Homo sapiens: one gene and its partners. The protein of the gene in region 1 interacts with the protein of each later gene in a pairwise test. Each region holds a gene or a part of one and is shown on either strand. Other genes may lie near its edges. The genes, in order: ITPKB, PPP3CA, IFT88 and TRIM54.

Evidence for each region.
Region 2: the proteins of ITPKB (region 1) and PPP3CA interact in binary tests that used the Homo sapiens proteins (3 or more experiments, as listed by UniProt).
Region 3: the proteins of ITPKB (region 1) and IFT88 interact in binary tests that used the Homo sapiens proteins (3 or more experiments, as listed by UniProt).
Region 4: the proteins of ITPKB (region 1) and TRIM54 interact in binary tests that used the Homo sapiens proteins (3 or more experiments, as listed by UniProt).

The regions. Positions count from the first base shown.
Region 1 is NC_000001.11:226,637,758-226,645,750, forward strand, and holds part of ITPKB (inositol-trisphosphate 3-kinase B), read right to left. Parts: intron 4,369-7,993; coding exon 4,164-4,368; intron 1,902-4,163; coding exon 1,800-1,901; intron 1-1,799. UniProt on the Homo sapiens protein: Catalyzes the phosphorylation of 1D-myo-inositol 1,4,5-trisphosphate (InsP3) into 1D-myo-inositol 1,3,4,5-tetrakisphosphate and participates to the regulation of calcium homeostasis.
Region 2 is NC_000004.12:101,092,239-101,100,231, reverse strand, and holds part of PPP3CA (protein phosphatase 3 catalytic subunit alpha), read left to right. Parts: intron 1-509; coding exon 510-621; intron 622-1,719; coding exon 1,720-1,865; intron 1,866-6,316; coding exon 6,317-6,456; intron 6,457-7,993. UniProt on the Homo sapiens protein: Calcium-dependent, calmodulin-stimulated protein phosphatase which plays an essential role in the transduction of intracellular Ca(2+)-mediated signals. Many of the substrates contain a PxIxIT motif and/or a LxVP motif.
Region 3 is NC_000013.11:20,569,658-20,577,650, forward strand, and holds part of IFT88 (intraflagellar transport protein 88 homolog), read left to right. Parts: intron 1-3,363; exon of another isoform or gene 3,364-3,494; intron 3,495-4,712; exon of another isoform or gene 4,713-4,722; coding exon of another isoform or gene 4,723-4,728; coding exon 4,729-4,818; intron 4,819-7,993. UniProt on the Homo sapiens protein: Positively regulates primary cilium biogenesis. Also involved in autophagy since it is required for trafficking of ATG16L and the expansion of the autophagic compartment.
Region 4 is NC_000002.12:27,298,824-27,306,816, forward strand, and holds part of TRIM54 (tripartite motif-containing protein 54), read left to right. Parts: intron 1-421; coding exon 422-593; intron 594-706; coding exon of another isoform or gene 707-832; intron 833-6,135; coding exon 6,136-6,231; intron 6,232-6,760; coding exon 6,761-6,994; intron 6,995-7,256; coding exon 7,257-7,279; intron 7,280-7,389; coding exon 7,390-7,514; intron 7,515-7,632; coding exon 7,633-7,718; 3' UTR 7,719-7,719; exon of another isoform or gene 7,720-7,745; intron 7,746-7,993. UniProt on the Homo sapiens protein: May bind and stabilize microtubules during myotubes formation.

The DNA of each region.
Region 1 (7,993 bases):
TAGAAAGAGGACCAGATTTTTAAGCGCCGCGTGGGGAAGGGCAGTGTCAGAACACCCATGCGGCCTCTAGTGGTCCCTCCCGTGAATGTGCTTTACCCTAAACGCCGGACATCTAGAGGCAGCTTCCTGCGAGCAGGGCTGCTGTGGCGTCTTTCTCAGCATAAATGTCAGTACCTTTGACTTTTGAAAGGACAGGGTAAGAGAGAGAACCACAAATATCTCTCCCAGTGCCCTCTCCATGGAGCCCTATAAACCCATGTCAAGCTTTGCTGGCCTTGGGGGGTGCCCCATCTTCCCCAGAAGCCAGCTCTGTGGGTCTCACCCCCGGGCTGCCTTGGGAAGCTCGTCATACACAGGTACACAGAGTTCCTCAATGCCTGCTGGAAAAGAGTGACAGCTGGCCGGGCCAGCCGAGCAGCCCCCTGGAGTCTTCAGCACCAGGAACAAACCCCAGGCATAGGAGGCATGTTCCATGGTGGCCACTGCTTAGGGGCTGAGATCCTCCCCTGCAAGGGACTCAGGAATTGGAGGACTTGGGCTACGAAAGAGTCAGGCACATTCCCCCTGCCTGCAGCCTCAGAGCTTGCCAGGAGCCAAGGGAAGCCTCCCCAGCTGGAAAAGGAAGATTTCCCAGTTCCAGCCGGTACTGAGTCTCCTTGGAGAAACGGCTGCCTGGTCCGCCCCCACTTGCTCTGCAGCTGCTGTGGACTGTTCAGAAGGTGCCATTCACAGGGGCTCCAGGGCCCGTGTCCCAGATGTGCCTGGATCTCTGACTGTCCCAGGGAGCCGTGCACTTGGGGCACAGTGGCACAATATTCCCTGACTCAGCTGGAAGGGTCAGTGCTCTGGTCCCTGTGGGCAGAGCATCTATCCAGTCTGCGAGCCGCTGCAGCAGCAACACACAAGACAGAACTTTGTCATGAACTTGTACAACCCACACTCCTGGACTCGGAGACAGCTCGCCAGCTCTTGCTGGCAGGGAGCAGCGTGACCTCGGGCACACAAGATGGGGACAAGCAGGTCTACCCACAGCAGGTCTGCTGTGAAGATTTGCTGCACGCTTGGCATGACACCTGGCAGACGGCGGGCACTGTTCTCTCTCTCAGGGCATGGGAAATGCTCTCTGGAGCTATGGGGCCGATGGCTAAGGGAGAGTCAGTGAGTGTCCGCCAAGCTTCCCCGCCTACCCGCCGCACGCCAGGGACAAGCACATCGCCTTCTTCTTTACTTTCCAAGCAGAAGCCTGGGGCCAGGATGGATACAAACCTTCCTGGGTACTAACTTCAGTGCCCTTGACTTTTTTTTTTTTTTTTTTCCCAGACAGAGTTTCATTCTTGTTGCCCAGGCTGAAGTGCAATGGCAAAATCTCAGCTCACTGCAACCTCCGCCTCCCAGGTTCAAGTGACTCTCCTGTCTCAGCATCCCAAGTAGCTGGAATTACAGGCATGCGCCACCATGTCCGGCTAATTTTTGTGTTTTTAGTAAAGATGGAGTTTCACCATGTTGGCCAGGCTGGTCTCAAACTTCTGACCTCAGGTGATCCACCTGCCCCAGCTTCCCAAAGTGCTGGGATTACAGGCGTGAGCCACTGTGCCCGGCGTGCCTTTGACTTTTGAAAGGGCAGAGTGAGAGAGCCACAAAAGTCTCTGCCAGTGGCCTCTCTACAGAGCCCTACGAACTCGGGCTGGGGTGTGCTGTCCCTGGGGGTGCCTTGTCCTCCCCATGGGCACCTCCAGAGTAGACACAGTTGTCCCTCCCTGGCTGGCTGGAGAGACCCTCTCTGGAGGTGCCAGACTCACCAGGATGTTATGGTTTCCTTTAGTGAACTCTCTGAAGGCCTCGGTGACCTGCTCCCTCGTTTTGGTCTTCTTGAAGTCCCGGTTCACGGTGCCGTCTTCTTTCTGAGAAAGAGAACACCCCACCCAGGAGGGGGTCAGCAGGGACCCTCGGGCAGAAACTGTTCTCACCCACCCAACACCACAGAGCAGGCGAGCCCCATCTGAACCTGGGGCAGGGCCAGTGGAGGCACCCAGGTGTCCACGTATGGCGCATGGAGGTGGCGTGCACAGCAGAGGGGAGCCTGCCCTGTGCCCAGACACAGGAGAACGCAGAGGGTGGCGCTGACATCCCCAGGCGAGTGAACAGTGGTAGGAAAGGCCCGGAGGTGTGAAGGGCATCCAGGCTGAGGATGGAGGAGCATGACCCGGGGCTGGCCTGTCCTGGGTGCAACAGCAGGGCCAAGAGAGAGGGTCGGCCTCGACTTCCCACTCTGGGGCCCGGGCCCTGGAACCGGTGCCCGGAGGTCCCTGCCCGCCAGAGGCACCTCCCCTCAGCACAGGGAGGAGAGACTTGCTCCCGCCCTGAGCTCAGCTTGACTTCCTTTATAATCTACCATCTCTTCTTTCACGTTTTCTGAAAGCCAGGATCCAATACAGCCCTGCCCATCTCTGCTCCCTCGCCCACCCCACTCCCATCTTCTTGGCCCCAGCACTATCTCTGTTCAGGCTGTCCTGGGCCCTCATGTGGGGCTTTGCTGACCTATGAGGAAATCTGTTCTTTAGGGACAAAGGGAATGCTCCACCAGGAGTCCCAACAGTGGGCCGTGTCTGCCCTCAGGCTGGAGAGTACTTCAGCTGTGTCCTCACTGTGGCTGCCTTCGACAGGACTGGCAGGACCTGGGGCTGAGGGAGCAGCCCTGGGTGCAGGAGGGGCCGAGAGCCGGGGGCTGTGGGCAGTGCACCCCAGGCAGAGCCTCTTAGCTAAGGGCGGGGCAGGCAGGTGATGGTGAAGACAGCTGGCTTCTCTCTGAGTGGGAAGACAGGCTGTCGGCTGTTCTGACGGCTGGACAATAGACAGAGACCAGGAGCACATCCTGCTCGAGAGGGAGAGGTGAAGGGAAAGTGGATTGTTTCTAATAAAGAAAGGAAAGCGAGCGTTAAGGAGAAGGCGGATGGGTACGGAATTTGCATCCAGTCTCAGAGCTGGATGCAAAAAAGAGGGAAGGGCTGGTTTCAAAAGACAAAGAAGGGGGCAAATGCCTTTCTCAGCCCAGAGCTCGCAAAGCAGCTGTCCCGGGGGAAGGTAAAAACTTCCCCACATGCCACCGTGGGCAGCGAGCCATTGACAGCTGCGGAAGCTACGTCTAAATGCCATCTGAAAGGAGGCTCAGGGGACCCTCCCATCAGGACCATCGGCTGCCCAACCCTGACTCCAGGCTGGACACTGGAGATGATGCAGACCATGACTGGACAGAGAATGGGAGACCCGACAACCCCACAGGGACTGCCATCTGCTCAAGAGGGACAGCTTCTGAGACCCTGAGGGGCCGGCGCCCCAAAGCCCGGCTCTTGCAAATTTAACAGCAAGGGTGCACACAGGGGCCCAGGGACAGGGAGATCATCCAGACAGTCACCAATCCAGACAGTGCCAGTTCCCCAATTTATTCTGGGGAAAGTAAATCAACATTTGAACATAATCATGTATAGGAAGCTTCTGTGTGCCCATAGCCAGAGCTAAGAACTTTCCTGCCAGATACACATAGGTACAAAGGGATAGAAGGGAAAGAGCCATCATTTTGTAAACCACAAACACAAAGTAAATATATTAATTAGGGGAAAATTACATTTACTTATAAAGTTTGTCATGTTGTTTCTTTGGAGCTTATGTTTCTATTTCTGTTCCAATAAATATTTTAAAATTTCCAAAAAAAGATCGAAGAGCAAAGCAGAGAGAATGCAGTTTCTCAGAGACCCTGGCTCCAACATCAAAGGCGGTCAGCATGCTCCTCCCTTCCCCGAATTGTCTGCCAGTCCCAGTTTGCAGCCATGGCAGAATGAACCAGCTACCCCACAGGCATCCCGCAGGTGCCTCTCGCCTGGCTTTCGGTGCCAGGCACCGTCTGGGCTAAATGGAGAGTCCTCGGCAGAGGGCTGACAGCTGGGCAGGGCTAGAAGCCACTCTGCTCTGAGGCCTGAGCCCCCTACACAGCCATCCCGCCTGAGGAATAGGCTGATGTCTCCAAATGTCTGGCCTTGGGGCGGGCCACCCACATTCTGAGCCTGTGCCTGGAGAAGCTTACAGCTTCCAAAGGGCGCTGAGAGAAGCCAAGCCCCCTGAGGTGGGCACGGGTGGGGCCCGAGGCTGCCCTCACTCGCCGGCCTCACCTTGATTCCCTCGATCCTGAACCCCAGGGTGGCCGTGGAGCTGATGGTCTCCCGCCACTGCATGTACCGTGGCTTGGTCACAGCCCGCTGTGCTTTTTCCTCCTCGGTGGGGGCCTCGGGGTCCACCTCGATCATCTTCTGGTACATGTCCTTCCGCAGGCTGGGCTTCTTCCGGGCCTTCGTGAGCTCCTCCTCCAGGTAGGTCCTACGTGGGAGGGAAGGCGACATGAGGGCCGAGGCCTGGGGCAGGGCTCACCAGCAGCTCCTTTCCTGCCTGGTGGATGAAGGTTTGGGGCGTGTGTTGCCCAACAGCTGCAGTCAGCTCAGTGCCCTGAGTCAAGGCACGTCTTTCCGAGGGGACGGCAGACTCTGTTCCAGCTGGGGCTGGCTCTAATTTTTCTTTTCTTTTTTTTTTAGACAATTTTTTTAGTAGATAAGGGAGTCTCGCTATGTTGCCCCGGCTGGTCTCAAACTTCTAGCCTCAAGTGATCCTCCCACCTTGGCCTCCCAAAGTGCTGGGATTACAGGTGTGCACCACCACCCAGCCTGGGGTTGGCTCTTGATCCAGGAGAAAAGGTGCAGCCTCACTGAATCGGACTGCCTTCACTTTCACTCCAAGCCCATCGGCTGGCCTCACAAAGCCCAAGGAGCTCCTCCTCGGGAGACCCCCACAGGAACCAGCAGAAGAAGGAAGACGGAGGCAGGGCAGCAGGGGGTGTCGGGGGTGGCTGGTCCTGATCCTGCTGCTACGGTGGAGCTAAGAGAGGGGACTGGGGGCAGGGTCTACTCAGGGCCCCACTAGATCCCCTTGGCTGCCTCGGCCCTTCCATAAAGCGAGGGCTTCCAAAGCCAGAACCTGTCCTGGTGGGAGAAGTGGTCTGTCCTCAAGTCCCCATCTCTGCTGCTCTCAGGCAGCCTGAAGGCTGAGCCTGCCCATAAGTGTCTCTGGCTCTTTCCAAAGAGGTGAAATCTTCTGGAGCACAAAGTTCAGGTCAGAAAGTGGCCTTGGAAGGGGTCCCAGTGTGGATGGAGAAGGCCGTATTGTGGGGGAAAGGCAGGGGGCTCCCTCAGCCTCTGCTCATCCCAGAGACATGCCTGGTGCACCCCACCCCATCGACACCAGGCCTCCTCATAGGTGAGCCCCCAGTCCAAAAAGCCTGAGAAAATGCTTCCAACTCAACTGCCTCACGGCCCTGGCCTCCACACGAGCAGCTCCAGCTGAACTGGCGGGGACCACCTAGACACTGGGGAAGGTAACAGGGGCAGGGACAGCAGAGCACTTGAGCAGCCGGGGGCTGAATCGCTGGCCCTGAGCTGCCGGGACACGCCACCTCCCCCAGCACACAGCTCTGCGCTTCTACCTTCTCCAGAGCAGAGGTGGGGTGAGTCATCCCACCCCCGCTCCTCTGCTCTCCTTTTAGAGCCCCAGTCTCCCTACACAACAGGCTCAGAGGCTGCCCACAGCCCTTGAGGAGGCAGAAATCAGCAGTGTCAGTTGCAGGATGGGGAAGTTTTCTCCCCTTTGCCCTGTGTGGGCGGGAGCTGCCCACAGAGGCCCCGCCCGCCTGCCCTCCACCTGGCCCTCCACTCTTCCTGCATCTGTCTCCCAGGCCTTGTTCCAACACTGCCCACCAACTTCTCCAAGTTGCTGGTTTGGGACCCAGAACAGACTAAACAAAAACTACAGCCTCTTAAAAATGACAGGCTTTAGAAACCACTGTATTAATTGAAATTTGCACGGAAAGAAAAGGGAAGAAAAAAACAAATCCTTTGGGTGTGAACTTAGGCCTGGCTGGTTAGGACCTTCCAGGAGGTGATGAGGGCTGGAGGGGGAAGTCAGTAGCTTTGGGTTGGGCCCTTGCATGCACACACAACCATGTGCGCACATACACACACATGTGCTCATGCACACACATGCACATAAACGCGGACTCCTGTGCACCACTGCACACACACAGGTGCACCCATGCAGGACACGCACAGAGCACACCCCTCACATGCAGAGCCAGGTCAGTGGTGACGGGGGCATTGAGGCAGGGGCTGCGTGTGCATCCATGTGTGTACTGTGTAGAAAAGGGGCAGCCAGGCTGTGGGAGGGACTCCTGAGGGCGCTGTAGGGGACCGCATGGTGGGTGGCTGCACTTCTGCAAAGAGCTCTCAGCACCCCCTTAAACAGGAAGCAGACCTCAATGTGAAATCCCTTTTCACATGGCCTTTCTCCAAAAAGGGCCCCCGTGGCTCAAAGCGGGCAGTCACTCACTGCCCAGGAGAGGAAAGAGGCTGGGGGGAGATGTCCACAGGGGGTGCCAGCTGGATGGTGGGGCGGGATGCCCACAGGAAGGTGAGGCTCAGCCCCTCCCCACACTCCCCTGCCTGCCCGAGACAAAGTCGAAGCTCCAAGCCATGCAGGGAAGCAGAGACCTGCTCGCCCACTCACAGGACGCTGGGGGAGGAGGGGACTCAAGATCAGGTGGAGGAAGTGCTCCTTTGAGACAGGCCAGCCCAGGGAGCCAACAGGTGGCAGGCGAAAGCCACCCAGAGCTCCTAGGTGCTAGGGGCGGGCTCTCACCTGCACTCCCCAGGCCCCTGGTCCCAATGTCAGGAAGACAGTGTTGACTCTCCAGGACAAGTCACAAATCTCAGAGCATGCCCCAGAGCCACTGAGCACATGTCGGCGGGAGCCAGAGTCCCAAGAAGCCCCGACGTGCAGACGCCACCAGCAACTGCATCACATTCTCCTTAGTGCCACCCTTCTGCCCCCGCCATGCCCAGCATTGTTTGGTGACCGGCCCTTCCCTTTCTCTGTGACATGTCTCAAACTCTCTTGCCCTGGGACTCAGCATGTGAGGTAACCCTGGGCTCCAGCCTCCTCACCCTGTCATGGAAAGGCCACATTCTAGAGGTGACCATGAGCAGCCAGTCTTGGGAGAGGCCCTGCAGCCAAGGGTTCTGGATGAACGCATTTGGGGGAAGGCACAGTCCATGGCCCAAATGGAACTAGCCTGGCACCCCAGGGAAATGCCATGGAAGCTGGGTCCCACACAGCCCCCTTGGGAAGGGCTGGGCTGCAGCTGGGGGCCTGATTTGCAGTCAAGCAAGCCTGGTGCAGAACTGCACCAAGCTGCTGCCTGGCTGGGTGGCCCTGATGAGTCACTGAACCTCCTGGTGACAGAACCCTCCTGCTTACACTGGAACATGACCCATCTCCCAGAATGGCGGTGAGAACGCAATGGGATAAATAATGGAAGCATCTAGCATAGCCCTTGGAACAAGAAGGGTCCTTAGGATTTGTGTGCAGGAAAGATCGGGCTGGGTGCACCCTGCTTCTGGGGAGACCTTCCTCTTCCCCTCCACACATACTCCTCTCTCATCCTCTTCCCTCTGCCTGCCAAGATGGGTTACATGGGTACCAGCCACGGTCACTCTAGATCTCTCTTGAGAGCACTAGGGTGCAATCAGAGAGAAGCTGCGGAAGTCAAGCGGCTGGGTGGGGGCAGCCCTGGGGCAGGAAGCGGGGCTCCTGTCCCCAGCAGGAGCAGGCAGGTTCTGGGGCAGCCTGGCCCTGTGCTTGGCTGGCTGTGTCTTTGGGACAGCCGACTTCCAGAAATGCCCAGCCAGTGTTCTTCACACAGGCCGTACTTTTTTGGCCAGGTCTGAGTGGACACCACTTGGATTATTCTCCATGTGGTCACCTGCGAAGTCCTGCTGCTGTCTGGGTTGGAAGGAAGGGCTGGGCCTCCCCTGAGAGGACACATTCTGGTGCACCAGTGGATGCCATCCTGGGTCAGAAATCAGACTCGGGAAAAGCAAAGGCCTCGGGCTGGCTGGGG
Region 2 (7,993 bases), on another chromosome or scaffold:
CTGCCTTCTTCTCTCCCAACATCTTGTCTTTTCTGTCAGTGTCTTTGGTATATAAATCTGAAGTTTTTGATTTATGTATCTATTTAATTAAATTGAAGTTCAGGGAATCTCACTACACATAGCAGTATTTCTTCTCATCTTTTTAAACCAGTATATTTTTATTTCTAGTATATTTTAGTTAAGTTTCTTCCCTTCCATTTTTTTTTAAACTCCCACTCTCCTCAGGTCACATAATTCTCCTTCTGTTGACCATATGTAATCCATTGTTTTCTTGTGGTATATGATCCTCAGTGCGTGTATGTATGTTTTAGGTGTAGATGGACCTTGGCTTTTTACCAAAGTAATGTTTCCTATTTGATTGTCAATATCTTCTCTACTAAGTTCCAGCCTTTTGGGGGACTTTTGGTCATGGTAATACATTTTATTCATGTCTTTATGATATGTGAGCAATGAAATGCATAAGTGTTAAGGAAAAATATTTATTTTTATATTATTTTTATTTTTCTCAGTGTGTGCTGTATTTGTGGGCCTTGAAAATTCTCTACCCCAAAACACTGTTTTTACTTCGTGGAAATCATGAATGTAGACATCTAACAGAGTATTTCACATTTAAACAAGAATGTAAGTATACTTCAACCTCCTTCCTTTAACACTATATGTGCTAAAAAGTAATTTTAATCAATAATAAGATACATACAATATGATCTATTGCCTAAAGTCAAAGACTTAAAGTGACACTCTTTCATATTATCCTATATTTCTTTCTAAGCATGGACATTTATGAGAATTCAGAATTTCTTTTTAAATTAGAACTTCTTTATAAAGTGATTGAAGAATTTGAATTAAGATTTGATGTAATTTATCCTAAGAAACAAGTGATTTAGGGATGCTACTGTTTGGAACAATAATTCTACTCATTAATCTCACATTACTCAAAAAACGCAAATGGAGGGCAAATTCAACCCTATGCCTCTGTTTTGGACCCAATAAATGAATACTAGCTTCTAGTGAATCTTATAAAACTGAAGATGATGTCATTCTTTAGACATAGACACTAGGAGTGTGGAGTGCTTTTTTCAATTTCTTTTTCCTCCTTACAATTTTTCTTATTATTCACTGAATCTTACAAAGGTATAAAACCTTACATTTTTGTTTTATGTATAAATACAGTTAAATGGAAGAGCTGGGAATCTCTCTATACATATCAATATTTTTCTCTTTCATTTAGTCCTATATTCAATGGAGCATAAAGACTTCTCCTCTTAAAACATTAGATATAAGTCATGGGAAAAGCAATGTGCAGTAAGATAGAAACAGCTTTAGGAAATGTCTTGCCATCTGCTTTTCTACAAAATCGTTAAGGAATATCAAGCAGCTTTATGGCTGTTTTTCTATTGGTCTTCCAGTTGTTCATGTACATTTTTTTGGTGAGACGTCTGCAGATAAATAGCCAGAATGTATATAAAAATTCTCTTGCTATACAAAACGTTATGAAAATTATAAAGTATGAATTAATAAATGACAAAAACAGGAAATACTAGATATAAAAGATTAATATGTTACTTTCAGAAAATCTTAATTATGTTTTGGAATTTTGTAGTATGTGCCTTTATGTTAATAATAGGGTCCTAGCAAGAAAACTTCTCAAAAAACCAAAACTATTTCAGTGAAATGATCCTGCCTATAAATCATAAGTATTCTTTTAATCACTTCTAAAAGGTAAAATAAAGTATTCAGAACGCGTATATGATGCCTGTATGGATGCCTTTGACTGCCTTCCCCTGGCTGCCCTGATGAACCAACAGTTCCTGTGTGTGCATGGTGGTTTGTCTCCAGAGATTAACACTTTAGATGATATCAGAAAAGTAAGTTTTGTTATTTTCCAAGTCTAATCATTTTGTGCGCTACAGTAATAAATAGAAGACATTAATTACCCTGCCTTTATCACTGACTTTATTCTTTTGAGTTCAAATAATTTAAAGTGGTCATGAATCGCTCCTTTGTGTTAAATTTTTATCTAGAAAGAGAGATATGTTTATACTTGGAAGAATTTTTATCTCTACAACCTCAGGGTTGGTCTTACCATCTGACATGTGTCTTTGGAAATATAAAATATTTGACCTCTAAAAAAAATATGCCTTATCATTTCCATTTGGCTTTTTTCAAACAATCCGTTGTATATTCATGATGTGTTATGCTAGAAATGTTGCTTTGCCCTTGGGAAAATATCATAACATAACCATTAAACTGTGCTCATTTTATGGTTTTTTAAAAATCTATTTGTTACAACTTGAGACTTTTAAGTAGCAATCTAACAAGGACAGTGATAATATTTTATTAATTTTACTGAGTGGCTGAGTGAAAAACTGGACTTTTTAAGAAGTATTTGTAAGAAGTTTTTAAGAAATACTCCAGTTTAGCATTGGCTATTAACAGTTGTTTAAACCAGCAAAAAGATGAGTTACATTGAATGTGGAAGTGGATTGTGTCTCTTTCTTGAGTAAATCTAGTAACATGGGATAGTTTTATGTAGTACAATAGATAGACAATCTTTTATTTCTTTGGTATGTTTCTAACTCTGATTGCAATGATGTAAAAGATAGAGAGTAATAAAAAATCGCAGTGTATTTTTCTTGGTGCCAAAATCGGACCAAAGGGAGAAAGTGATGTAAATGTTTTCTTAGGTCATTTTAAAATAATATTACTTGGAATTATTTTAAAGTATGATAATTTCTTCACATTGATATTTATAACATATGTTATTGAAAATTTGTGCCCACCATTAAGCTTTCTATCTAGGAAATCTAAGCCAAATTTTTTCTGGAGGAATTATAAACAGTTGAAAACTGTATTTATCTTCTTTCCTCTACTTTTAGAGACCTAAGAAAATACGCTTGTACTTATCCCATAGAACAGAGGGGTGAAAATAATTCTAACCTTTTATTATTATTCTCACCAGTAATTTTAGCAAGAATAAATTGGTCACATTGTTCTAAATTACTGTATTTGAACTATAAAGATTGGAATTTTGCTGAGATTTCTTCTAAAGATACATACTACTCAGTATATATTTAAGCCTAATGTATGATAGGTAGACTTTGGCTTCAAATAAGTGATGCACTAATCTCAAGGTGTACAGAATTTATTTCTTAAGTTATAGGTTCACTTAAGAATAACCATGGGCACAGTTCAAATTCTAGATCTTGCTTATCATTAGGGGCATTCATACAAAGACTCCCTTGGTGTCACTTGTTTGATTGATTGCCATTTAATTGTTTTTTTCCATTTCTTCTGAGTTTGGAAACTTGATTGCTAAGTCTGAGAAGTCTATATGATGAACATTTGCAAGTTAATTCTATCAGCTGCCATAAGTTATTAAATTAGTAAACAGTGTTTTCCCATTGTGTTCAGTGGAGAAGGAAAGCAAATATTTTATCTATTCATGTATCCATGTATCATATTAACCTGATAACCACTTATTGAAATAGGTTTGGAAAATGAAAAGTCAAATTACAAATAAGTATAGTAGTTTCTGTTAGCAAATGATGGGCATGAAAGACATGCATTTATGTTTTATTCTCTTGCCTTGATCAAATTTCATGGCCTTGGATGGAAGATGAGAAACTTACTAAGTGTCCTCCTTCAAAGGGGGATTAGTGAAAACTTCCCTCAAAATAGTGTTTTAATTATTTGAACAAAACTGATACACTGAATAGAGTTCTATACTGTAGAGAATAAATAGAAAGGATAAGGCTATTGTACTATTTTGTTTAAGACGCAATCACCAGCAAAAAGGTTGTAAACCTCTACTACAAAATGAATAACCATTTTCATATAGCTCTCATTTGTAGTGTTTCTTTAATACTTTTGTTAATGAAACTCATGGTTTTGAGGAAATACTTTAGTAAATTATGAATGTATTTGCATACCATAAGTCTCTACTACCATGAACTCAATATTCTTTTAAAGTTCATTAGTTTTTAGAGAAAAATTATTTTCAGGTAAAATAAAACATTCAAGTTCTTCCTATCATTGAGGTTCAAGTGTTCAAGTATAAAAATAATGTGTTTACTTTCCTATTGGAAAGAAAATGCATGCTTTTTATTTTAAAATTCAAGCGAAAGCACAATAAATAAACCTTGTTTCCTGCTCTGTGTCTTTGTGTCCATTTTTGCAAGACACTATTTCACACTTCTATAGAGCATAGAGCATTGGTCTTTGCTCTATATTTAAAGTACAGTAGAGATGTGATGCTGGTTCAGTATAAAATTGTTTCTTTCTGGGCCAAGCATGGTGCCTCACGCCTGTAATCCCAGCACTTTGGGAGGCCGAGGCAAGTGGATCATGAGGTCAGGAGTTCGAGACCGGCTTGACCAACATGTTGAAACCCCATCTCTACTGAAAATACAAAAATTAGCCAGGCATGGTGGCGCGCGCCTGTAATCCCAGCTACTCAGGAGTCTGAGGCAGGAGAATTTCTTGAACCTGGGAGGTGGAGGTTGCTGTGAGCCGAGATCGTGCCACTGCACTCCAGCCTGAGTGACACAGGGAGACTCCGTCTCAAAAACAGAAATGTTTCTTTCTGCATGAATATAACTAGCTCATTCTGTAATCTGATGGATTTTTTTTAAGTAAATAAACTTCACATCGTAAATTAAGTAGATTTTTTAAAATATCACCTAATATCCCTAGGACTTACTTCCCAGGATATTTTAGATATTATATTCAATTTTCATACATATCATTAAGCTCTGCACATGGCCAGAAAATGATTTTTAAGTTTTTATCTTGCCATATATCAAGTTTTTTTGTATTTGTTTATTTTTACTGTCAATTATATTAACTTTTAGAATGCACTGTATACTTTTTCCAGAATAAATGTTATATTCTGGTAGCTTTGCAGACCTTTAGTTGGGGATTCATATTAATCAGAAACTTTCCCCTCCTCTACTGTCCTACCCTTAATAAGTTATTGTTTTTCAGAAAGAAGTTCTGTATTTTTAGGGACAAGTATTATTTTTCTTGAATGTATTGTTCCAAGAGCATAAATTATTTAAATCTCTTAAACAAGTTTAAGTTTGCAATGAATATTTTGTGGCTAACATAATGGTTGAAATGTAGTCTTGTTTTATTGAAGTTTTTCATTGGGTATTGAAAACATAAAATATTGCCTCATTCTCTATAGATACTAATAAAAAGTAGTGTGCAACAAAACCATTACTTACATCTTGTATGTCCCAGAAAAAAAAAATAGACAATTTGATTAGTTGTAAGCAAAATATGTTCACTTGTCTTCATTGGATTTTTAAAAATATCAATATGAAGAATATCAATTCTTAATAGATTTTCAAAGCTATTGCATGCTTTTATTCAAGAGCCTTTATAATATCTGCTGATTCACCAAAGATCCTTTAATTGCAGTTAAATCAGGATAAACTAAAGTGTTTAAAATTGATCGTGATATGTTATTTCCAGTGATGATATTTCTAATATGCCTTCTAAATGCACCTTTTAAAATTGAAATGTGACTTCACTAAACATTTATAGCTGGAAAATTGATTTCATATGAAGGCTTCAGGTAAAATTATAAAGCTTAGAACTGTGAACTGAAGAATGACCCGCTAAAGTTGAGTTTATTTTACTGCTTATCATTACTCATATTTGTACCCACTAAGATCAACTACAGGAGGCTTGTAGTTTATCATTAGAAACCTAGATAGCCCATAATGAAATAGTATCCAAAATATCATATAGCAAGTGGCTACTTTTAAAGTAAAAGCCATCTTTTCTCAAAATCATGTTCTTAAATATAAAAAAATAACATAAGCATGAAAACTAGGAGTTGTTTTCCATCCAAACTTCTAAATCACAGTTTAATAGAGGCAGTAATAGGAATTTTCCCAAAGAAAGTAATTCTCAATAAATGAAACAGGGGTAGAGTCATAATAACTGGTCATGAAAAAAACATTTGGATAGATAAAGTAAGTAAGGAGAGAAGGATAAAATGTAGAATAGGAGAAATGAGAAACTGCGAAATCTAGAGATAATAGAGGCAAGAGGAAGGTAAAGGGTTAGATGAAGATAGATACTAAATGATCTCATCAGAAGGAAGCTGGAAAGAAAATTGGAGAGAGATGAAGGATAGGAAAACGAGTAGGAAGAAGGACAGGAAGAGAGAGAGAGGTAGAGGACATTTCACCCTGAGCTGTAGCTGGGGAGAAGAGGATGGGTTCTGCACAGTGCTTGTTTCTTGTATTGTCAGAATTCTAAGTTTCCAAAGATTAGTATTTTGCTCTCTGTCTTCTATTTTTCTTAGTTAGACCGATTCAAAGAACCACCTGCATATGGACCTATGTGTGATATCCTGTGGTCAGACCCCCTGGAAGATTTTGGAAATGAGAAGACTCAGGAACATTTCACTCACAACACAGTCAGGGGGTGTTCATACTTCTACAGGTAAGAATAGAGAACTTGCTCTCTGGAACACGTTTGCATCATAATGCTAGGATTTATCAGTCCATGTGTTTGATTTATTTATAATGTTTGTATTACTTCTTTAATATAAATGAAAGGCTCACTAGCATTTATAAAATGAAAATATAAATAAATGAATAAGTGAGTAAATAAATGTGAAATAGATATGTATACATATACAGGTGTACCTTGGGGATGTTAAGGGTTTGATTCTAGACCACCACAATAAAGCAAATATTGCAATAAAGCAAGTCATTATTTTTTTGGTTTCCCAGTGCATATAGAAGTTATGTTTACACTATACTGTAGTCTATTAAGTGTACAATAGCATTGTATCTAAAAAAAAAAAAACAAATGTACATACCTTAATCAGAAAATACTTCATTGCTAAACAATGCTCATGATCATCTGAGCCTTCAGCTAGTCATAATCTTTTTGCTGGTGGAGGATCTTGCCTCGATGTTGATGGTTACTGACTAATCAGGGTGGTAGTTTCTTTCTCAAAAGAAGACATTTATGTGGCCAAAAAACAATGAAAAAATGCTCATCATCACTGGTCATTAGAGAAATGCAAATCAAAACCACAATAAGATACCATCTCATGCCAGTTAGAATGGCGATCATTAAAAAGTCAGGAAATGGATGCTGGAGAGGATGTGGAGAAATAGGAACGCTTTTACGCTGTTGGTGGGAGTGTAAATTAGTTCAACCATTGTGGAAGACAGTGTGGCGATTGCTCAAGGATCTAGAACCAGAAATACCATTTGACCCAGCAATCCCATTACTGGGTATATACCCAAAGGATTATATATCATTCTACTATAAAGACACATGTATATGCATGTTTATTGCAGCACTATTTACAATAGCAAAGACTTGGAACCAACCCAAATGCTCATCAATGATAGACTGGAGAAAGAAAATGTGGTACATATACACCATGGAATACTATGCAGCCATAAAAAAGGATGTGTTCATGTTCTTTGCAGGGACATGGATGAAGCTGGAATCCATAAGAACTATTATTTTTGCCCCAATGCAACAAAGTATCACAAGAACAGAAAACCAAACACCTCATGTTCTCACTCATAAGTGGGAGTTGAACAAAGAGAACATATGGGCACAGGGAAGGGGAACATCACACACCAGGGCCTGTCAGGGGGTGGGGGGCTAGGGGAAGGATATTATTAGTATAAATATCTAATGTAGATGACGGGTTGATGGGTGCAACAAACCGCCAGGGCACATGTATACCTATGTAACAAACCTGCACATTCTGCACATGTACTCCAGAACTTAAAAAAAACTCCAGTATTAAAAAAAAAAAAACTGTACCAAAAAAATCCAACACCAGCCTTGTTTTAATTCAATTATGTTATCACATTTAAAAGTTTTACCAGTTTCTGTAACTCAGATCAGAAAAACAACTTTACATTGGTTAAATCAATCATTTAATTCCTTCTTACATTTGTTTATCAGGCTTCCTGGATAAATTAAAATAAGCAGCTTTACAGTATAT
Region 3 (7,993 bases), on another chromosome or scaffold:
TTTGTAAATCATTTATATAATGTTTAGTATCAGGAATATATACAGGATCCTTATAATTCATGTGATAACCTGATTTTTGGGAATGAGCTGGCCGGGCGCGGTGGTTCACGCCTGTAATCCCAGCACTCTGGGAGGCCGAGGTGGGCGGATCACAAGGTCAGGAGATCGAGACCATACCGGCTAATACGGTGAAACCCCATCTCTACTAAAAATAAAAATAAAAATAAAAATAAAAAAATTAGCCGGGCTTGGTGGCGGGTGCCTGTAGTCCCAGCTACTCGAGAGGCTGAGGCAGGAGAATGGCGTGAAACTGGGAGGCGGAGCTTGCAGTGAGCCGCGCCACTGCCCTCTAGCCTAGGCGACAGAGCAAGATTCCGTCTCAAAAAAAAAAAAAAATGAGCAAAAGATCTGAACAGACATTTCTCCAAAGAGATATAGAAATGGATAATAAGCAGATGAAAAGATACTCAACATCATTAGTCATCAGGGGAATGCAAGTCAATACTACAATGAGATACCATTTCATACTCACTAGAATTGCAATAATCAAAAACAGGAACAGTAACAGATGTTGGCTAGGACATGGATAAATTGGAAACTTCATGCATTGCAGGTGGGATGTAAAATAGTGCAGCCACTTTGGAAAACAGTCTAGCTGTTCCTCCAAAAGTTAAACATAGAGTTACTATATGATCCAGCAATTCCTTTACTAGATATATTCCCAATAGAATTGGACCTATATATGCATGCTAAAACTTGTACACACACATTCATAGTGATGTTATTCATAAAAGTCAAAAAGTGGAAACAATTCAAATGTCCATTAACTAATGAATGGATAAGCAAAATGTTGCAGATGTATTTAGCCATAAAAAGTAATGAAATATTGATACATACTACTGCGTGGATGAACCTTGGAAGCATTATGCTAAGTGAAAGAGACCAGACACAAAAGGCTACATATTGTGTAATTTCCTTAATATGAAATGTCCAGAATTGGCAAATCCATAGAGACAGAAAATGGTTGCCAGGGACTGGGGAAAGGGAAGGGAGGCATGGAGAGCTGCTAACAGGCCCCATATTTCTTTATGGGATGATGAAAGTGTTCTGGAATTACATACTGGGGATGGTTGCACAACCTTGTGAATATACTAAAAACCACTGCACCTTGAAAAGTTAAATTGTATGGTATATGAATTATAGTTCAAAAACTAATAATTTTGTTAGTATTTAAAATATATAAATAATTTTTAAAGGTTATGAGAAGCCACATATATGTGGTATTATGCTGAGAAAAAGATTAAGCTGAAAATTTATTTTTTATTTATTTATTTTTATTATTTATTTATTTTTTGAGACAGAGTCTGGCTCTGTCGCCTAGGCAGGGGTGTGGTGGCACAATCTCGGCCCACTGCAACCTCCGCCTCCCAGGTTCAGGCCATTCTCCTGCCTCAGCCTCCTGAGTACCTGGGATTACAGGTGCCTGCTATCATGCCCGGCTAATTTTTTTGTATTTTTAGTAGAGACGGGGTTTCACCATATTAGCCAGGATGGTCTCGATCTCCTGACCTCGTGATCTGCCTGCCTCGGCCTCCCAAAGTGCTGGGATTATAGGCGTGAGCCACTGCGCCCAGCCTAAGCTGAAAATTTCTTAGGAATTTGCTGGTGCACTTAAAATGTACAGGCCTTAAGAAAATATGTATTTGCTTTAAAGAAAATACATTTCTTGAATACTAGCAATACTACATTTCTTGGGTAATTAGCCTTCCTCCACCTCCCACCCCTCAAATTGCCTAAAATATTGACTTGATTTGAATGATACTTCCAGGAATCCTTGCCAGATTCTTTAGTAATTATTAGATTTACAGTATATCTATATGGTAATTTCATTTCTCCCATGCTTCTGTCCAAGTCAAAATGTAGAGATGAATCTTGAAATTTTACATTTTTATTTGGGAAGAAAGAATTGCAGTTTGAGGACCAGGTGGTCTTTGGTATGTCCAAAGAACAAAGAGAAGGTTGGAGGTTTATCAAAAGGAGAAGTGTCATGTAGTGCTCTTTGAGAAAGTTCACTGGAACTAGTGAGGTTCTGGGAAGCTGGCAAGTTCTAATTGGTGGGTAGCTGTGGTGGGCACAATTAGTCCTATATTTGCAGCAAGTTATCTCAGCAGCTATAAATAAAATTGGCCTCAGGTTTTAGCAGCCAGTTTCAGCAGCCAGACTTGCAGAGAATTCCATTCTTCAAGCAATGTTATGTGTCCTGAGTGCCTCCCCACCAACACACCCCAGCTTCTTGACTCTGTTTTAGTTGGGTATGACAAGAATGACTCAAATTTGTATGATCAGCTTTCACTCTTCTGTTTCATTTTGCTTTGATATCTTTTTTTCTGTCTTGCATTTTTTCCCTCAACATTTCATTATGAAAATTTTCAAACATGCAGCAAGGTTTAAAGAATTTTATGTTGAATGTTACTCCTGCTACCTAGATTCCACCATTAACCTTTTTCTATAGCTGCTTTATCATGTACTTATCCATTTACCTATCTCTCAATCCATCTATCAAGCCATCTTTTTTTTTAGAGACAGAGTCTCACTCTGTCACCCAGGTTGGAGTGCAGTGGCATGATCTCAGCTCACTGCAACCTCTGCCTCCTGGGTTCAAGCGATTCTCGTGCCTCAGCCTCCCAAATAGCTGGAATTACAGATGTGCACCACCATGCCCGGCTAGTTTTTGTATTTTTAGTAGCGATGGGGTTTCACCATCTTGACCAAGCTGGTCTCAAACTCCTGACCTCAAGTAATCCACCCGTCTTGGCCCTCCAAAGTCCTGAAATTACAGGCATGAGCTACGGCGCCCGGCCTAAGCTGTCTTATTTTATGTATTTTAAGCTAAATTACAGCTATTACATGTTCCCTGAAATAACAGCATGCGTATCAATTATATAGTTCAATATTTGTTTATAGTTCTTACTTTTGAGGTAAAATTTACAAAGCAGAAATCGCAGTGTATATTTGCTGAGTTTTCACAAATGCATACACTTGTGCGACTCAAACCCCTGCCAAGATACAGAACATTTATCATCACCCCAGAAAATTCTCTCATGTCCCTTTCCATTCAATCCCTAACCCCCATCCCCAAGAAGCGATCTCAGTTCTGATGGTTTTCTACCGCAAATTAGCTTTGCCTGTTTGAGAACTTCATATAAAGGAAACAGTGCATAATGTACACTCTATGTAAGGCTTCTTTCACTCAGCATAATTGGGATTCTTTTTTATTGCTGGATAGTACTTCATTGCGTAAGTATGCCACATTTTGCTTGTCCATTTTACTGATGGGTATCTGGTTTGTTTCTGATTTTTCAGTATTATGAATAAAGCTATGACAAAGAAAAGAAAGGTTTAATTTGAAGAATGAGACTCTCCTCTAAATTACCAGGTCCAGAGAGGCGTGGGAGTGAAACAGCAGTCACATCTCCTTTACCTTCTTGGGCTAAGTAATCATGTCTTGAAACTTGCTTGCTATTGCCATAAGTAGCTATAAATTAATCTAACAATGGCACTGTCTGGATACTATAACCCATACAATGTAGCCAATCACTAATCAACGTTATTTTTTTAAACCAGTGAGAATTTCTGACAGACAGCTTTGTATCAGCCCACTCCCTGCCCCACTTTTTTGCCTTTAAAGATCTGCTTGAAACAAAGGCCAAATGGAGCGCCTGTCCAAGGTTACATGAAGTCTGAGTGTTCTGGGCAGGCAGCCGTCCTCATTTTGGCTCAAGTAAACTTTTTAGAATTGTATTTTATGCCTCAATTCCTTTCTTTAGGTCGACAGCTACTATGAACATTCTTATACAAATCTTTTTGTAGACATATGTTTTCATTCCTCTTGAGTAAATATTTTTGAGTGGAATTGCTGGGTGATAAAAGGTACTTTTAATAAAAGTTAATTTTATGAAACTGCAAGACTTTTCTCCCAAAGTGTATCATTTTACACTCCCATCAGCAACGTGTGAATACTCTGGTTGCTCCACATTTTTGCTGACATTATGTGTTGTTGGTCTTTTTAATTTTACACATTCTGATGGGTATGTGGTGGCTTCTGCCTTGCATTTTAATTGACTGTTGCATACCTTTCTTCTGCACTTGATACTAAGCTTCCATGAAAATCAGGACAATCAATTGTACCCCCTCTAGTGCCTGTCACTGTTCTTTCAGTGTCGTAGTTGTGAAATAAATGTGAAATGAGGACAATAACTTAATGTTTTGACATCTAGTTTTGGGAATTTGATGTGAAAAAAATTGAAGCCATGAAAATATATATAGATAAATTTGACCACAAATGTCATTAAATAGTTATACTTTATTGGAATTAAGAATTATTTCTGGCCTGGCGTGGTGGCTCATGCTGGTAATCCCAGCATTTTGGGAGGCCAAAGTGAGAGGATCACTTGAGCTCAAGAAATTGAGTCCAGCCTGGGCAACATAGGGAGATCCCATCTTTACAAAAAATTTCAAACTTAGTTGGGTGTGGTGGCACAAGCCTATAGTACCAGGGAGGCTGAGGTGGGAGGATCACTTGTGCCAGAGAGATCAAGGCTATAGTGAGCCGTGATTGTGCTACTGCATTCCAGCCTGGGCAACAGAGCAAGACATATCTCAAAAAATATATATATATATTTCTTATACCAAGAACATATTTACACTGCCAGTTTTTCCTAGGTACAAATGATGCAAAATGTGCACCTGGCTCCAGAGACAGATGAAGATGATCTTTATTCCGGCTATAATGACTACAATCCAATCTATGATATCGAGGTAACAAAAGCTAGTTGTTTTTTACATTGGTCTTGGTTAACCAGCTGGTTTATGAAGACTGTGGATTTGAGAGTTCTACTTTATTATGCTTTAGATTAAATAAGCTGATTCAAAAACCTAGAAAAGTGCTATTACAGAAGACTCTACTGACTTCCACCAAAAATAATAATTGCAGCAGAAGGAAAGATCATGAGACAGGTTACAAAAATGAATTAAGGTGAATTATATATACTTGTATTCTTCAGCACTAGCTATCCAAATGTGTAAAAGACTTAGATCACCTGAAAGTATTTAAAATTAGGGTTTTAAGAAAAATTTTAAAGTTGAAATGTCTTGTTTTTTGGTTTTAATTTTTGTGAGTACATAGTAGGTGCATATATTTATGGGGAATATGGGATATTTTGATACAGGCATACAATGTGTAATAATCACATAAGGGTAAATAGGGTTTCTGTTACATCAAGCATTTATCCTTTGTGTTCCAAACAATCCGATTATATTCTTTTAGTTATTTTTAAATGTACAATTAAATTATTGACTATAGTCACCCCATTTTGCTATCAAATACTAGATCTTACGCTTTCTTTTTGTTTTTTTTTTTGTACCTATTAACCATTCTCACCCCCTCCCCTGCCACTACCCTTCCCAGCCTCTGGTAATCATCCTTCTATTCTTTATCTCCTTGAGTTCAGTTGTTTTAATTTTTAGATCCCAGAAATAAGTGAAAACATGCGATGTTTGTCTTTCTGTGCCTGGCTTATTTCACTTAATAGAATGGCCTCCAGTTCCATCCACATTATTGCAAATGACAGGATCTCATTCTTTTTTATGGCTAGTTTTCCATTGTATATATGTACATTTTCTTTATCCATTTGTCTGTTGACAGACACTTAGGTTGCTTCCAAATCTTGGCTATTGTGAATACTGCTGCAGCAAACATGGGAGTGCAGATATCTTTTTGATATACTGTGATAGAGTTTGTATATTTATCCCCACGCACATCTCATGTTGAATTGTAATACCCAGCATTGGAGGTGAGACCTGGTGGGAGGCGATAGGATCATGAGAGTGGATTTCTCATGAATGGTTTAGCATGATCTTCTTGGTGCCATCCTCACCCCATGTGATGTGACTGCTCCCATTTTGCCTTCTGTCATGAGTGAAAGCTCCCTGAGGCCTCCCCAGAAACTGAGCAGATACTGATATCATGCTTGTACAGCCTGCAGAACGATGAGCCAATCAAACCTCTTTTCTTTATAAATTACCCAATCTCAAGCATTCTCTGGTGCAAAAGTAACTGCAGTTTTTGCCATTTTAATTGCAAAACTGCAATTACTTTGGCGCCAACCTAATAGCAATGCAAGAACGGCCTGGTACATACTGATTTCTTTTCGTTTGAGTATATTCCTAGCAGTGGGATTGTTGGATCATATGATAGATCTATTTTTAGTTTTTTGAGGAACCTCTAAACTGTTCTCCATAGTAGTTGTACTAATTTACATTCTCACTAACAGTATATGAGGGTTCCCTTTTCTCCACATTCTCACCACCATTTGTTATTACCTGTCTTTTGGATAAAAGCCATTTTAACTGGAATGAGATGACATCTCGTTGTAGTTTTGATTTCCATTTCTCTGATGGTCAATAATGTTGAGCACTTTTTCATATACATGCTTGCCATTTGTATGTCTTCTTTTTAGAAATATCTATTCAGATCTTTTGCCCATTTTTAAATCAGATTATTAGATTTTTTCCTACAGAGTTGTTTGAGTTCCTTACATATTCTGGTTATTAATCCCTTGTCAGAGGGATAGTTTATAAATATTTTCTCCCATTCTGTGGGTTGTCTCTTCACTTCATTGTTTCCTTTGTCGTGCAGAAGCTTTTTAACTTGATGTGATCTCATTTGTCCATTTTTGCTTTGATTGCCTGTGCTTGTGGGGTATTACTCAATAAATCTTTGCCCAGTCCAGTGTCCTGGAGAGTTTCCCTAGTGTTTTCTTTTAGTAGTTTCATAGTTTGAGGTCTTAGATTTCTAAGTCCTTCATCCATTTTTATTTGATTTTTGCATATGGTGAGAGATAAGGGTCTAGTTTCATTCTTCTGCATGTGGATATTCAATTTTCTCAGCACCATTTATTGAAGAGAATGTCTTTTCCCTAATGTATGTTTCTGGCACCTTTGTCAAAAATGAGTTCACTGTAGATGTCTAGATTTGTTTCTGGGTTCTCTATTCTGTTCCATTAGTCTGTCTGTTTTTATGCCAGTATCATGCTGTTTTGGTTACTATAGCTCTATAGTGTAATTTGAAGTCAGGTAATGTAATTCTTCAGTTTTGTTCTTTTTGCTCAGGACAGCTTTGGCTATTCTGGGTCTTTTGTAGTTCTATATAGACTTTAGGATGTTTTCTTCTGTTTCTGTGAATAATGACATTGGTATTTTGATAGGTGTTGCACCGAATCTGTAGATTACTTTGGGTAGTATGGACATTTTAACAATATTGGTTTTTCCAATCTATGAACATGAAACATCTTTCCATTTTCTTATGTCCTCTTCAGTTTCTTGCACCAATGTTTTATAGGTTTCATTGTAGATATTTTCACTTCTTTGGTTAAGTTAATTTCTAGATATTTAATTTTATTCGTAGATATTCTAAATGGGATTACTTTCGTGATTTATTTTCCAGATTGTTCACTTTTGACATATAGAAATGCTACTGATTTTTGTAGGTTGATTTTGTATCCTGCAACCTTACTGAATTTATCAGTTCTAATAGTTTTTTGGTGGAGTCTTTATGTTTTTCCAAATATAAGATCATATCATCTATAAACTAGGGTAATTTGACTTTTTCCTTTCTGGTTTGGATGCCCTTTATTTCTTTCTCTTGCCTGATTGCACTAGCTAGGATTTCCAGTACTATGTTGAATAACAGTGGTGACAGTGGTCATCCTTGGCATGTTCCAGATCTTAAAGGAAAGGCTTTCAGTTTTTTTTCATTCAGTATATTAGTTGTGAGTCTGTTACATGACTTTTTTCACGTTGAGGTATGTTTCTTCTATACACAGTTTTTTTTTAGGGTTTTTATGAAGGGATGTTGAATTTTACCTAATGCTTTTTCAGCATCAGTTGAAATGATCATGTGGTTTTTGTTCTTTATTCTGTCGATATGATGTAT
Region 4 (7,993 bases), on another chromosome or scaffold:
GAAACGGTCAACCTGCCTGTTCTGTCTAGAGACCATAGGACTGGATCCGGAGAGGGACTTGCCTCAGGCCTCCCAGAGAGGGCAGTCTCTGATTCCCTAGCCAGTACTTCACTCCTACCCTCTCCTCCTGGGAGAGGCTGGCAGTCCACCAGCAAGATCCTCGCTAACCCTCCAAGACTTCCTGTCCTGTGGGACTTCCCTGCCCCCTTGTAATACAGACTGTTCTCGGATCCAGGCCTCCTCTATCTCTTAGCTCCTTCTGTTCCCCAAATTCAGAGCTCTGTGGAAGTACTCACCAGTTCAGCCACAGCACTAGCTGCAGGGGCGGAGAAGGTGGTGGCAGTTGGTGGAGGCTGAAGAGAAGGTATTCCTAGGACCCTTCATGCTTAAGGTCCACCTCCCCCTGCCCACTCCTCTCTAGGCCGCTGCACTCCAAGGCTGAGCAGCACCTCATGTGCGAGGAGCATGAAGAAGAGAAGATCAATATTTACTGCCTGAGCTGTGAGGTGCCCACCTGCTCTCTCTGCAAGGTCTTCGGTGCCCACAAGGACTGTGAGGTGGCCCCACTGCCCACCATTTACAAACGCCAGAAGGTATCAAACAGGGGAGGGAGTAGATATGTGAGAGATGGGGGCTTAGGACAGGGTCTCAGTGTCAGCCTCTTACTCCACTTATCTTTTGTTTACTTATTTCTTTATTTATTTAGAAACAGGATCTCACTCTGTTGCCCAGGCTGGAGTGCAGTGGCACAAACACAACTTACTGCAGCCTTGATCTCCCGAGCTCAAGTGATCCTCCCATCTTAGCCTCGCAGAACACTAAGATTATAGATGTGAGCCACCGCACTCAGCCCTATCTATCTATCTATCTATCTATCTATCTATCTATCTATCATATTTTGAGATGGAGTCTCGCTCTGTCGCCCAGGCTGGAGTGCAGTGGTGCAGTCTTGGCTCACAGCAACCTCAGCCTCCCGGGTTCAAGCTGTTCTTATGCCTCAGCCTTCCAAGTACCTGGGATTACAGGCATGTGCCACCACACCCAGCTTTTTTGTTTTTTGGTTTTTTTTTGACTCCTGGCCTCATGTGATCCGTCCACCTTGGCCTCCCAGAGTGCTGGAATTACAGGTGTGAGCCACTGCGCCCAGCTCCATTTATTTATTTTTTAAGAGATGTGGGGATCTCTGTCGCGCAGGCTGGAATGCACTGGTATGATTGTGATTCACTGCAGCAGCCTTGAACTCCTGGGCTCAAGTGATCCCTACCACCTCAATCTCCCAAGTAGCTGGAACTACAGGCATGTGCCACCATGACCAGCTAATTATTTTATTTTATTTATTTATTTATTTGTTTATTTATTTATTTTGAGATGGAGTTTTGCTCTTGTTGCCCAGGCTGGAGTGCAATGGCACGATCTCGGCTCACTGTAACCTCTGCCTCGCAGGTTCAAGCAATTCTCCTGCCTCAGCCTCCAGAGTAGCTGGGATTATAGGCGCCTACCACCATGTCCAGCTAATTTTTTGTATTTTTAGTAGAGACGGGGCTTCACCATGTTGGCCAGGCTGGTCTGGAACTCCTGACCTCAGGTGATCCACCCACCTTGGCCTCCCAAATGCTGGGATTACAGGCGTGAGCCCCTGCGCCCGAACCTAATTTTTTATTTTTACATAGAGACAGGGTCTCAGGCAGGGCACAGTGACTCACACTTGTAATCCTTTGGGAGGATACTACTAATAATAATATTTATTAGTAGTAGTAGTACTAATAATAATATTTATTAGTAGTAGTAGTACTAATAATACTTTAGAAGAGCGAGGCAGGGGGATTGTTTGAGTCCAGGAATTTGAGACCAGCCTGAGCTGTGTAACATAGTGAGACCCTTGTCTCTACAAAAAATTAGCTGGGCATGGTGGCATGCCTGTAGTCCCAGCTACTCGGGAGGCTGAGGTGGGAGGATCACTTGAGCCCGGGAGGTTGAGGCTGCAGTGAGCCATGATTGCACCACGGCACTCCAGCCTGGGTGATAGAGTGAGACCTTGTCTCAAAAACAAACATACAATATTAAAAAGAGACAAGATCTCACTGTGTTGCCCAGGCTTGTTTTGAATTCCTGGGCTCAAGCCATCCTCCTGCCTCTGTTAGAGGAAAGAGGTCTTGACACAGACCCCAAGACAGGGTTATTGGATCTCGCGCAAGAAAGAATTCAGGGCTAGTCCATAGAGTAAAGTGAAAGCAAGTTTATTAGGAAAGTAAAGGAATAAGACAATGGCCACTCCATAGACAGAGCAGCCCCTAGGGCTGCTGGTTGCCCTCTTTTTTTTTTTTTTTTTTTTTTAGATGGAGTTTCGCTCTTGTCGCCCAGGCTGGAATGCAATGGCGCGATCTCAGCTCACTACAACCTCCGCCTCCCAGATTCAAGCGATTCTCCTGCCACAGCCTCCCAAGTATCTGGGATTACAGGCATCCGCCACCATGACTGGCTAATTTTTGTATTTTTAATAGAGACAGGGTTTCACCATGTTGGCCAGGCTGGTCTCAAACTCCTGAACTCAGGTGATCCACTCTCCTTGGCCTCCCAAAGTGCTGGGATTATAGGTGTGAGCTACCGGGTCCAGCCTGGTTGCCCATTTTTGTGGTTATTTCTTGATGATATGCTAAACAAGAGGTAGATTATTCATGCCTTCCCTTTTTAGAACATATACGGTCACTTGCTGACATTGCCATGGCATTAGTAAACTGTCATGGAGCTAATGGGAGTGTAGCAGTGAGGACCACCAGAGGTCGCTCTCATTGGCGTCTTGGTTTTGGTGGGTTTTGGCCGGCTTCCTTACTGCAACCTGTTTTATCAGCAAGGTCTGTATGACCTGTATCTTGTGCCGACCTCCTATCTCATCCTATGACTTAGAATGCCTTAACCATCTGGGAATGCAGCCCAGTAGGTCTCAGCCTCATTTTACCCAGCCCCTATTCAAGATGGAGTTGCTCTGGTTCAAACGCCCCTGACACCTCAGCCTCCCAAAGCGTTACTCCACTTAGTTTTAAAGTCAAGCAGGCCGGGCGGTGGCTCACACCTGCAATCATAGCACTTTAAGAGGCCGAGGCGGGCGGATCACCTGCGATCAGGAGTTCGAGACCAGCCTGACCAATATAATGAAACCCTGTCTCTACTAAAAATACAAAAATTAGCCAGGTGTGGTGGCATGTGCCTGTAATCCCAGCTACTTGGGAGGCTGAGACAGGAGAATCGCTTGAACCCGGGAGGCGGAGGTTGCAGTGAGCTGAGATTGCGCTATTGCATTCCAGCCTGGGCAACAAGAGCAAAACTCCATCCAAAAATAAATAAATAGGCCAGGCGCGGTGGCTCACGCCTGTAATCCCAGTACTTTGGGAGGCCAAAGTGGGTGGATCACGAGGTCAGGAGATCGGGACCATCCTGGCTAACACGGTGAAACCCCATTTCTACTAAAAATACAAAAAACTTAGCCGGGCGTGGTGGCAGGCGCCTGTAGTCCCAGCTACTCGGGAGGCTGAGGCAGAATTGTTTACCTGGGAGGCAGAGCTTGCAGTGAGCCAAGATCGGGCCGCTGCACTCCAGCCTGGGCGACAGAGCGAGACTCCGTCTAAAAATAATAATAATAATAATACCTAAAATAAAATAAGTAAATAAAAATAAAATCAAGCAGATTAAGCCAGGCGTGGTGGCTCATGCCTGTAATCCCAGCACTTTGGGAGGCCAAGGTGAACGGATCACTTAAGGTCAGGAGTTCCAAACCAGCCTGGCCAACATGGTGAAACCCTTTCTCTACTAAAAATACAAAATTAGCTGGGCATGGTGGCAGTCGCCTGTAATCCCAGCTACTCGGGAGGCTGAGGCAGGAGAATCACTTGAACTCCAGAGGCGGAGGTTACAGTGAGCTGAGATTGCGCCATTGCACTCCAGCCTGGGCAAAAAGAGTGAAACTCTGTCTCGAAAATAAAATAAAAGTCAAGCAGATTGGAGTCAAAGTCCTAGCTCTGTGCTTGACTTGGTGTGTCACCTAGGTATGTTACTGGACCTTTGTGGCCCTCACTTTCCTCATGTGTAAAATTAGGGTGAAAATGCCTACTTGTGAAAGTAGCTATAAGGATAAAATTCGATAATGGATGAAAGCAGAGACTTCAGTATGGTGGGTGAGATACTTGCAGGGTCCTCTCTATCACACAACTAGATTCTGTGTAAAACAGAATTTTCAAATTATATTGCTTGGTACATAGAAGCAAAGGAAATCAGTGGGGGTGGGGAGGGGCGAAGAGAAAAGGCGGAGCTGAAAGCAGAACCCTGAGTGGCAAGCACAGAAAAGGCAGCATTTCGCAGAGGACCAGTGCTGGCAATGTCACTGAGCTAGAGAGACCAGACTATTCCTCCAAACCCCTAAAAGGAGGGGTACCTGCAGCTAAGATTCCAGAGACCCGGCTGGGCGCAGTGGCTCACGCCTGTAATCTCAACACTTTGGGAGGCCGAGGCGGGCGGATCACTAGGTCAGGAGTTTGAGACCTGGCCAACATGGTGAAATCCCGTCTCTACTAAAGATACAAAAAATTAGCCGGGCGTGGTTGCAGGCCCTGTAATCCCAGCTACTCGGGAAGCTGAGGCAGGAGAATCGCTTGAACCCAGGAGGCGGAGGTTGCAGTGAGCTGAGATCACGTCATTGCACTCCAGCCTGGGCAACAGGGAGAGACTCCGTCTAAAAAAAAAAAAAAGTTTCCGGAGACCGTAGGTTAAACTAGGATCCTAGGAGCTAAAGCAGTAAATTGCGCCACCTGGCTTTCAACAGAGGCAAATGCAAATACTGCCTAGAGGAAAATATGCACAATTTAGGCCCGTAGGTATTCCCTAGATTAATTAATATCAATAAAATATTAGATCACAATTGAAGGTGCACAGAGAAACGTAATCCATGAGTGAAGTCAGCAGAAACAAAAAATACAGATTTAGGACCCCCCACAAAAGCAACTGAGATATTGGAATTATTAAATAATTGGAAGTCACTATAAATCAAATGCTTTTTAAAAAAAGATGAAAAATTTTAAAAACCAAACAATAATAGAATATCAAAAACCAACCATGTAGCTGGGTGTGGTGGCTCACGCCGGTAATCCCGACACTTTGGGAGGCTGAGGTGGGAGGATCACTTGAGTCCAGGAGTTGGAGACCAACCTGGGGAAATGTTGAAACCCCGTCTACAAAAAAATATAAAAAATTAGCCGGACGTGGTGTCATGCGCCTGTAGTCCCAGCTACCTGGGAGGCTGAGGTGGGAGGATCACCTGAGCCTGGAAGGTCGAGGCTGCAGTGAACTGAGATCGAGCCACTGCACTCCAGCCTTGGTGACAGAGTGAGACCTTGTCTCAAATATATATATATAGATAGATAGATAGATAGATAGATATAGATATACAGATATATATATATATATAGATAGATAGATATAAAACATTCAACAGATGGCTGGGCATGGTGGCTGGAACCTGTAAACCCAGTGACTAGGGAGGCTGAGGCAGGAGGACAAGGCCTGGTGTTCGAGACCAGCCTGGGTGACAGAGCAAGACTCCGTCTCAAAAAAAATTTAAAAAAAAATCAACGAATGAATTGAATGATAGATTTGTCTGAAAACAGAACTAGTGACCAGTATGAGAGGACTGAAAGAAAAACAGAACGTGCAGTTCTGGGAGATGATGAGAAGGCTGAGAGTGAGAAGGTCTAACAGGTCTAATCAGATTCCCAGAATGAGAGGATAAAGAGAATAGAGAAGAGGCAATATTATGCCAATGGATAATCTTGAAGACTTTCTCAGAATCGATGCAAGAAATGAATCTACAGATAAAGTATCTAGCCCAGTGTCTGGTATCTGGTGGATGTTTGGAGACTGTCTGTTCCTTCCCCACTTAGTGGTGGAGGGCTTCTCTCCACCTCCTTCCAGAATCACTAGAATGTGCTTCCGTACCTCTTGATGGTTCAAGCCTTCTAGATTGCTGTAGATGCCCTTATGGGGGGTGAGGTGGAAGGGCCAGCCCTCTCCTAGGCAACCCTGGCTGGGGTGAGGGGTGTAGCTCTAGGCCAGGTCCCAGCTCTGAGTGCTGACCTGTGTGTGTATCAGAGTGAGCTCAGCGATGGCATCGCGATGCTGGTGGCAGGCAATGACCGCGTGCAAGCAGTGATCACACAGATGGAGGAGGTGTGCCAGACTATCGAGGTGAGCCTGGGCTGGAGGGAGGGAGGAACAGCAACTGGCTAGCCTGCGGACCCCGGGCTCCCAAGAGAACTGCTCCTCTCTGACCTCTCGCCAAACTGGTCTGAAAGTTTCTGGGGTCCTGGGAGTGGTGGGAGGTGCTTTTGCCAGGCTGCTGGGTGTGCATTCCAGCTTTGCCGCAAAACTTTAATCCAGTTATTTAACTTCTCTGTGCTTTGGTTTTGTTTAACCTCATAAAACAGTGATGATGATAATGATACACCAGCTACCTCATGGGTTCTTTTTGAGAATTAAATGGAATAATGCAAATAAAAACCAGGGCTAGGGATATAGACAGCAATCAGTGAAGCTACTTTAAAGCATTGTGTTTTTATTATGGAAAAGATCTGGGCTGGGTTCTGGCTCAGCCACTAACTCACAGTGTCACTACGGATGGGTCACTTTCTGTGTTGGTTCTCTGTGAGTACCCTGTGCTTTCCCAGCCACCGGGTCTCAGCCACGCCTTCCCTCATCCTTGCTCCCCATCTTTTAGGACAATAGCCGGAGGCAGAAGCAGTTGTTAAACCAGAGGTTTGAGAGCCTGTGCGCAGTGCTGGAGGAGCGCAAGGGTGAGCTGCTGCAGGCGCTGGCCCGGGAGCAAGAGGAGAAGCTGCAGCGCGTCCGCGGCCTCATCCGTCAGTATGGCGACCACCTGGAGGCCTCCTCTAAGCTGGTGGAGTCTGCCATCCAGTCCATGGAAGAGCCACAAATGGCGCTGTATCTCCAGGTGGGCTCTAGGGGAGGGTGGCAGCGCTGCACAGTGGCTGGAGTCAGGGCCTTGGTACCTGGAGTCCCGGGTTCAAGTCTTGTCTCTTGCACCTGCTTGCCCCTACGACCTTGGGCAAGTCACCCCCTCTGAGTTCGTTTTCTGCTTAACGAATTGGGACGTGCCTTCCCACCTACCCCGCAGGACTGTGGTGAGATTCAGAAATGGGACTTTGCCCAGGTTGGCCCAGTGCTTACTCTCACCCTCCTTTTCTTCCCTGCAGCAGGCCAAGGAGCTGATCAATAAGTGAGTAGGCATAGCGGGAAGGGAAAGGAGGGGGCTGCACTGCTCCACTGGCTGGGGTGGGGCTTGAGAGTGCTGGGGCATTGCCAGCTGAGTCCGTGTGGCCACTGCAGGGTCGGGGCCATGTCGAAGGTGGAGCTGGCAGGGCGGCCGGAGCCAGGCTATGAGAGCATGGAGCAATTCACCGTAAGGGTGGAGCACGTGGCCGAAATGCTGCGGACCATCGACTTCCAGCCAGGTGAAGGAGGTGGCCGAGGGCCGCTGAGACGGGTTCGGACCCTCTGTGTGGGGGGTGCGGCGGGCACGATGGCCGTAAAGGCAGGGACTCCACCTCACCAGGCCTTCCTTGGGCTCAGGCGCTTCCGGGGAGGAAGAGGAGGTGGCCCCAGACGGAGAGGAGGGCAGCGCGGGGCCGGAGGAAGAGCGGCCGGATGGGCCTTAAGGTGAGAGCCGCCCGATGGGCCTTAAGGTGAGAGCGGCCTGAGGGGCTTGGGGTGGGGCCTGGCTGGTGTGCTCGCGTCCCCTCCCCCAGTGATTGCCCTCCCTGCGGGTAGCGTGGAGCCCCCACTCCTCGGTGCAACCCAACCCCGGAGCCACAAAGGCGCGCCCCCTAGGGCGGAAAAGTACACTTTCCTCCTCACCCGCTGTTCCTCTGGGGTGCTGGGAGGGCAGGCAAGGCAGGCTGAGTAGAGGAGAAACCCACGTGGCGGGGGACGG